2 separate regions of the Homo sapiens genome follow, and region 2 is linked to region 1. A link means that fine-mapping ties the variant in region 1 to the expression of a gene that starts in the linked region. Tissue or cell type: lung. Region 1 holds a variant in brackets; the other region holds the start of a gene. All regions are shown on one strand. Distances are between the middles of the regions.

Evidence for each region. PIP is the estimated chance that this variant, and not a neighbour inherited with it, causes the effect.
Region 2: GRAMD2A starts here. The variant in region 1 is the best candidate, but not a certain one, in a credible set for the expression of GRAMD2A in lung (TOPMed, PIP 0.66).

Annotation. Positions count from the first base shown.
Region 1 is chr15:72,395,338-72,399,554 of GRCh38, forward strand. It overlaps TMEM202 (transmembrane protein 202), which reads left to right and starts at 2,968. Exons shown (of 5, transcript NM_001080462.3): 1 at 2,968-3,070; 2 at 3,316-3,571. The coding sequence starts at 2,990. The variant AC/A (reference allele first, on the strand shown) is at 2,013.
Region 2 is chr15:72,195,249-72,199,465 of GRCh38, forward strand. GRAMD2A (GRAM domain containing 2A) reads right to left here and starts at 2,539. Exons shown (of 12, transcript NM_001012642.3): 1 at 2,483-2,539. The coding sequence starts at 2,523. PKM (pyruvate kinase M1/2) reads right to left here. Exons shown (of 11, transcript NM_002654.6): 11 at 3,781-4,217. RefSeq lists an enhancer at 1,977-2,156 and a silencer at 2,267-2,686.

The DNA.
Region 1 (4,217 bases):
TTTTATAGCTGCATAGTATTCCATGGTGGATATGTGCCACATTTTCTTTATCCAGTCTACGATTGGTGGGAATTTATGTTGATTCCATGTCTTTGCTATTGTGAATAGTGCTTCAGTGAACATACATGTGCATGTGTCTCTATGATAGAATGATTTCTATCCCTTTGGGCATATACCCAAAAATGGGATTGCTGGGTCAAATGGTAGTTCTTTCTGTCTTCATGTCTTTGAGGAATCATCACACTGCTTTCCACAATGTTTGAATTAATAATTTACACTCCCATCAACAGTGTATGTGTTCCTTTTTCTCCACAACCTCGCCACAGTCTGTTATTTTTTTGACTTTTTATAGTAGCCATTCTGACTGGTGTGAGATGGTATCTCATTGTGGTTTTAATTTCTCTAATGATCTGCCCCTCTTTCCACGGTCTCCCTCTCCCTCTCCCTCTCTTTCCACGGTCTCCCTCTCCCTCTCCCTCTCCCCTCTTTCCACGGTCTCCCTCTCCCTCTCCCCTCTTTCCACGGTCTCCCTCTCCCTCTCTTTCCACAGTCTCCCTCTCATGCCGAGCCGAAGCTGGACTGTGCTGCTGCCATCTCGGCTCACTGCAACCTCCCTGCCTGATTCTCCTGCCTCAGCCTGCCGAGTGCCTGCAATTGCAGGCGCGCGCCGCCACGCCTGACTGGTTTTCGTATTTTTTTGGTGGAGACGGGGTTTCGCTGTGATGGCCGGGCTGGTCTCCAGCTCCTGACCGCGAGTGATCCGCCAGCCTCGGCCTCCCGAGGTGCCGGGATTGCAGACGGAGTCTCGTTAACTCAGTGCTCAATGGTGCCCAGGCTGGAGTGCAGTGGCGTGATCTCGGCTCGCTACAACCTCCACCTCCCAGCCGCCTGCCTTGGCCTCCCAAAGTGCCGAGATTGCAGCCTCTGCCCGGCCGCCACCCCGTCTGGGAAGTGAGGAGCGTCTCTGCCTGGCCGCCCATCGTCCGGGATGTGAGGAGCCCCTCTGCCTGGCTGCCCAGTCTGGAAAGTGAGGAGTGTCTCTGCCCGGCCGCCATCACACCTAGGAAGTGAGGAGCGCCTCTTCCCGGCCGCTATCCCATCTAGGAAGTGAGGAGCGTCTCTGCCCGGCCGCCCATCGTCTGAGATGTGGGGAGCGCCTCTGCCCTGCTGCCCCGTCTGGGATGTGAGGAGCGCCTCGGCCTGGCCGCGACCCTGTCTGGGAGGTGAGGAGCGTCTCTGCCCAGCTGCCCTGTCTGAGAAGTGAGGAGACCCCCCGCCTGGCAACCGCCCCGTCTGAGAAGTGAGGAGCCCCTCCGCCCTGCTGCCACCCCGTCTGGGAAGTGAGGAGCGTCTCCGCCCAGCAGCCACCCTGTCCGGGAGGGAGGTGGGGGTCAGCCCCCGCCAGGCCAGCCGCCCCGTCCGGGAGGGAGGTGGGGGGTCAGCCCCCCACCCGGCCAGCCGCCCCGTCCGGGAGGTGAGGGGCACCTCTGCCCGGCCGCCCCTACTGGGAAGTGAGGAGCCCTTCTGCCCGGCCAGCAGCCCCGTCCGGGAGGGAGGTGGGGGGTCAGCCCCCTGCCCGGCCAGCCGCCCCGTCCGGGAGGTGAGGGGCGCCTCTGCCCGGCCGCCCCTACTGGGAAGTGAGGAGCCCCTCTGTCCGGCCAGCCGCCCCGTCCGGGAGGGAGGTGGGGGGTCAGCCCCCCGCCCGGCCAGCCGCCCCGTCCGGGAGGTGAGGGGCGCCTCTGCCTGGCCGCCCCTACTGGGAAGTGAGGAGCCCCTCTGCCCGGCCACCACCCCGTCTGGGAGGTGTACCCAACAGCTCATTGAGAACGGGCCATGATGACAATGGCGGTTTTGTGGAATAGAAAAGGGGGAAAGGTGAGAAAAAGAATGAGAAATCGGATGGTTGCTGTGTCTGTGTAGAAAGAAGTAGACATGGGAGACTTTTCATTTTGTTCTGTACTAAGAAAAATTCTTCTGCCTTGGGATCCTGTTGATCTATGACCTTACCCCCA[AC/A]CCTGTGCTCTCTGAAACATGTGCTGTGTCCACTCAGGGTTAAATGGATTAAGGGCGGTGCAAGATGTGCTTTGTTAAACAGACGCTTGAAGGCAGCATGTTCGTTAAGAGTCATCACCACTCCCTAATCTCAAGTACCCAGGGACACAAACACTCTGCCTAGGAAAACCAGAGACCTTTGTTCACTTGTTTATCTGCTGACCTTCCCTCCACTATTGTCCTATGACCCTGCCAAATCCCCCTCTGCGAGAAACACCCAAGAATGATCAATAAAAAAATAAAAAAATTAAAAAAAAAATACAAAGATTAATTTCTCTAATGATCTGAACATAGAAACCAGCAAAGATTTCATGATGAAGATGCAAAAAGCAATTGCAACAAAAGCAAAAATTGACAAATGGGATCTAATTAAACTAAAGAGCTTCTGCATAGCAAAAGAAACTATCAATAGCGTACACAGAAAACCTACAGAAAGGGAAAATTTTTTTGCAAACTATGCATCTGACAAAGGTCTAATATCCAGCATCTGTAAGGAACTCAAATAAATTTACAAGAAAAAGACAAATAACCCCATTAAAAAGTGGGCAAAGGGCATGAACACTTTTCAAAAGAAGAAACACATGTGGCCAACAAGCATATGAGTTCCCCTTTTTTTATTTGCTATGAGGGAACTGTGTCTTATTTATTTTTGTGTCCCAGAAGCTAGCACAAAGCCTGACACACAGCCACTGCTAACAAAATGTTTGTGGATTTATTTAATAAAAGAGTTGGGAGTAGGTGGAGAATGGAGGGTGGGGAGCATCACACATACATGCACATGCTTAAAATGTGGTGATTTCTTCCTGATCTGACCAGATCAAAAATATAAAACAGAAACAGGATCTATGCCATGGGTCCTGGCCCTTTTTGCTTCTGCCAGCATGTGTGAGGAGATGCAGAGACAAATTCCGTGGCAGTTAGAGAACTAACTGCCAAGATGGAGCGAAGGGAACATTTAACCTTGACTTTCCACAGTCCTGAGGTTCCCAAAATAAAGGGGAACCGGAAATACCAAAGGGTGAGGAGGTATCTAATTGAAAGTCAGATGGGAAGAAGAGAACTTACTTAAAGGCAGGGCTACACAGAGCATCCTAAAGACAGAAAAGATCACCCTGAAAATTGTGGGGTTTTTTTTTTTTAGGAGTAGGGAAAAATATCTATAAATCAAACACACATGGGAATGCTTGAGGTAGAGAAGAGCGGGTGACCCTGGGGATCAGGGGTTATTCTTTCGGGTAGGCAATATTTCCCTCATCCTTGTAGCCTACCGTCCCTGCCAAGAAACATCCAAGTGCCTCGATGTCATGCCAAAGGCAGCAGCAGCTTATGGATCAGGCACACATCTACATCCGAACGCTCTGTGGCAGCCTCTGTAGTTTTAGCCTCCTAATGCTGATCGCCATGTCCCCACTGAACTGGGTACAGTTTCTGGTGATCAAGAATGGCCTTGAGCTCTACGCAGGACTCTGGACCTTATGCAACCATGAGCTGTGCTGGAGCCACACACCCAAGCCACCCTGTGAGTGCCACCGAATTAAATGCCACAGGCCCCACACAATTGCAGAGCTTTCTGCTCACACAAATTGGCCCTTCATGTTTCTTCCTCCAAGATCTTTTGGCCTTCACCTCTCCAAGTGCAGGATGGATCTTTCTTTGGTATCCTCAGTGTGCCCTTTCTCTCTCCTATTCCAGGTTGTTTCCTGTCCTAAATAATGGGTTATACTCTCTTTATGGGAAGAACTGTTTTTGTTTGTTGGTTGGTTTTTCGAGACAGGCTCTTGCTCTAACGCCTAGCCGAAGTGCAAAAGCACTATCATTGCTCACTGCAGCCTCCACCTCCAGGACTCAAGCAATCTTCCTGTTCAACCTCCTGAGTAGGTGGAACTACAGATGTGTGCCAACACTCCTGGCTAATTTTTAATTTTTTTAAATTTTTTTTTCTTTTGTAGAGACAAGTTCTCATTATATTTCCCAGGCTGGTCTCAAAGTCCTGGCCTCAAGTGATCCTCCCAAAGTACCAGGACTATAGGTGTAAGCCACCATGCCTGCCCTAGGAATAACTCATTTACAAGGTGTTACTGCTAAGCAATGTGATTGGTATTCTAATGTGGCTTGCAGAATTAGAAGAGAAGTGATTGATCATAGCTGGAAGATAAAGCAAATAT
Region 2 (4,217 bases), 200 kb before region 1:
CAATCTCCTTACCTTATGGTGTAAAGCAGGCCCAGAAAGCGGAAGTGACTTGTCCCAAGTCGCAGCAAAACAGGAACAGCCTGAGGCTTAGAACTCACTTCTGATTCCAGAGTGAGGCTCTTCCCTCCAGCTGATAAACATGGTCCGTGGCAGGCAAGGACCAGAGCGAACCTAAGCAGGTTAGGGGCGGGGTGGAGCCACCCAGGAGGCACTAACAGCGCAGCAGCTCATGGGAGAGCTTCCAAGAGGCCAGCTGGCAGCAACCCACCTTGGGTACTGCCGACCTCAACCTCAGGGGGTCACGGGAGCACCCTAGGTGGATGAATTAGCATACAAGTCTCTCTGGTCTGTGCCAAAGCTTTGGGGCCTTGCTAAATTTAGAAATTTGAGGCCAGGTGCAGTGGCTCACACCTGTAATCCCAGCACTTTGAGAGGCTGAGGTGAGCAGCTCACCTGAGGTCGAGAGTTGGAGACCAGCCTGACCAACATGGAGAAACCCCGTCTCTACTAAAAAATACAAAATTAGCCGGGTGTGGTGGCGCATGCCTGTAATCCCACCTACTCGGGAGGCTGAGGCAGGAGAATCACTTGAACCCAGGAGGCGGAGACTGCAGTGAGCCGAGATCACGCCATTGCACTCCAGCCTGGGTAACAAGAGCAAAACTCCGTCTCAAAAAAAAAGAAAGAAATTTGAAAGCAGCCAGCAACATCAAGGCACAGATGGAGCTTGAGCTACCCTCTTCAGGCTATTCAGAAAATTCTCCCAAGGGGAAGTTGGGAAGGAGAACTTCTATTTGGCCCCAGCCTAAACTCTCCTGGAAGCTCGATGGGGCCTCTGTCAGCTTTCCCCTCTGGACCTGCCCATTTGTCCCAGAGGTGCCCACTGAGGCTACCTCAATGCCTGTCAAACTAAAACTTAAACCTAAGAGTGTCTGCAGCATGGTCTCCAGCCAGCCTGATCAGAAGACTATGGAGGGGGCCAGGCACGTGGCTCACACCTGTAGTCCCTGTAATGCTAGCACTTTGGGAGGCTGAGGTGGGTGGATCACCTGAGGTCAGGAGTTCAAGACCAGCCTGGCCAACATGGTGAAACCCCATCTCTACTAAAAATACAAAAATTAGCTGGGCGTGGTGGTGGGCACCTGTAATCCCAGCTACTCGGGAGGCTGAGGCAGGAGGATCACTTGAACCTGGGAGGCAGAGGTTGCAGTGAGCCAAGATCCCACCACGGCACTCCAGCCTGGGTGACAGAGTGAAACTGTCTCAGAAAAAAAAAAAAGAAAAAAGAAGGAGGGGCATACTGACTCCTCACTGAAGAATGGGATAGACACCCTCTATTCTACCTCTCCCAGCAAGGCCATAAGTCTTTGCTCTGAAAGGAGCCAGACTTTAGAGCCGGCTACAGGTGGACATGGGGTGAAGACATCAGGTTGCGAGGGTACCCTCTCTCGTTCCCTAGGAGCCTGGCCCCTGCAAGGAGGGGCACCTTTAAACAATCAAGCATAGTGAGTGGGGCGGCAAGCAGAGCAGAGACACAGACGACAGCGGGGTGGAGCCCCACCAGTCCCTCTGAGTATAAGGCAGAGGGAGTCCCGCTGGGGTCCACATCCCTGTGTGTCTCGGGCTGATTTGGACACAAGGCTCACACATTCATCCTACCTGCCCCAGTGCTAGCTGGCCGAGGATGCCAGGCTGTACCCGACCTTAGGCTGTGCGGCTTGGAACCTGGACCGGGGCAGGAATTGACAGGTTCCCCCAAACAATGTCACTCCCAGGACCCTAAGACCTCAAGCAGCAGAAACCACAATTCTGGATGTTACGTGCAGCGCCAGCTCCTGTCTGCCCTGCCTCCTTATCCCTTTCTCCCAGGGCGACTTTGGACCAGGTCTCGAGGCCGGGAGACCGGCCCCAGCCCGCCCGACCGGGATGGGCCTGGCGCCCGGGGGAGGCCGCGTCGTGCTGAGACAGCTCCGAGCTGCCTCCCCGCAGCCGCGGGCCGCTACAATACGGATTCGGCGGCGAGAGGAAACAGTCTGGCCCTCCAGGGGACGCAGGGAAATCCAACCTTTGGGTCGGGGGCAATTAGGACTGGGAGTCGATACCGCGGGCAACGAATGATGAATGAATAAATGAAAGGATGAACAGAGTGGCGAGGCGGAGATGGGCCATGCGGGGCGTCCCGAGGAGGGTGCCCTTCCTTGCCCCGATGCTGCCGGGACCGTCCCTCATCCCCCAGGTCGCAGCAGACTCAGCCAAGACACCCGGTCCTAGTGCGAACACCTCGCGGGCCCCGGGAGACGCCTGGGCGCGCGGTGCAGCTCTGGCCCGGAGCCCGCATTCCGGCGGCCGGGAAGTGCCTGCCCCGTGGGCAGAACGCGCCGAGTTGCCGCGGCCCCAGGAGCCGTCCTGCCCCGCGCGGCAGCAGCCCCTCGCGGCGGCCTCCGGAACCCCCGAGACCGGCCCCCGGGCCGCAACCCCTTACCCGCCCTCCTCGGTGGCCTCGCTCCGGCTTAAAGCGGTCATCCCGGCGCCTGCACCCAGCGCCCCGACCGCGCGCCGGGACCCAGCGCCCGCCGGACCCCGCCCGCCCCGTCGAGAGCCCGCCCCGCCCGCCCGCCCATTGGCGGGTCGCGCGGGCCGGGCACAGCCCATTGGCCGTTCCTCCCCCTCATTCCCCAGCTTCCCCAGCTTCTCTCCTTCCCCACCTTCCCCAGGTGGGGCTCCAAGCTCTGAGCAGATCCTAGCGCTCGGTTCCCCGGACTGGGAGGTCCCGGAGGCCAGGGCCTGGCGCGGCACCTCCTGTCCCTCACGTCGAGGGTATTGTGTCCCCTCTGGACGCTTCTGTCGTCCTAGTCTTGCGGCTTGGGTCCCTCTGCAGGAACCAATTCCGGCCCCTCTCCAACCTAACCCTTCCCAACATAGAGCTCCGGATAAGTTTCAATTTTACCGTCAGTGGGGAACACCAAAGGGGATATTGAACACCATGGTCTGACAGCCAAGTCACCACCACGAACCCGGGAGCCAGGATGCTCCCACGCACTTTTGCCGGAGTTAACATTGCAGTTTCTCCAAGGAAATACACTTTTGGAGGAGTCTGCAAAGGGGCTGAAGGTGGACACAAATCAAAGGCAGGGAAGCAGAGGCACGTGCGCTCAGTGTGACAATGAGCTTTTGCCTGGCCTGCAGGCCCTTTCCTCTTCCATCCCCACCAGGACACTTGGTCCTTGGGAGTGTGGTCAGGGGAGAGGAAAAGCGCAGGCCAGATTTGGTCCCATTCCCAACTCTCTCCCCCAGCCCTTTGGCACTACAGCATCATGGTGGGAGGGCACCAGCAAACAGGAGGGGTCCCAAGGGGAGCCTAGGTCCACAACTGAGGACCTGGGAGCCAAACCCAGTCTCAGGCGCCCAGAGCTGACTCCTCCTACAGCCCCCATAAGGGATACGCTAATGCAGGAAGACCAAAGTGGAAGAACCATGGCCAAGGCCACTTTGCAATTTGGGTTTATCTACCAGAGTGGGAGGGAGGCCTTGTCCCTGCTCTTTCCCATCTTCGGTTCACGTAAGCCATTAAAGTCTCCCCGCAGCACTGAAGGGGGCAACCTGTAACCCTAAGATAGTAAGCTACTGCTTTCCCAGCGCCTCTGCACCAGGAGGTGGGCAGGATGGCAGGTGACACCACCATAGCTCCCACTGCGGGGCACGAGGCTGCAGCCATTCCCAGCCTGCTCAGAGGGCAGGGTTCAACCACCTCCCCCTCCCCAGCAGAAAAGAGAGGAAACAGGTGCTTCAGCTGTTGTTTATTGACATACAGGTAGGCTCTATAGCAACAGGCCTGGAGGTGCTGCAGTAGTGGGGGAAAATGGAAGGTGGAGGGTGGAGTGTTTGCTGCAGGACAGCTGAGTGGAGGGTGGGGACAGGTGCAAACTGGAGAGGCCTAGAGAGCTAGAGAAGCAAGTAAGGGCCAGGGCCAGAGTCGGCTTCAATGGAACAACAGCCCAGTGCCCTAAGGCCCCTAACTCTTGCTGGCTGTTTCTTGACCCCAAGCCAGGGTTGGGAGTCCTCTGGGCATCCATTTTTTCTAAAGGAACTGGACAGAGTACACACAGGAAAGGAAGCTGTCACCCTCTTGCCATCTGGCTCCAGGGGCCTCCAGTCCAGCATTCCTCCTTCTTCCCTTGATTGGGTGGGGCCACATGATGGGCAGCCAGGCTCTGGGC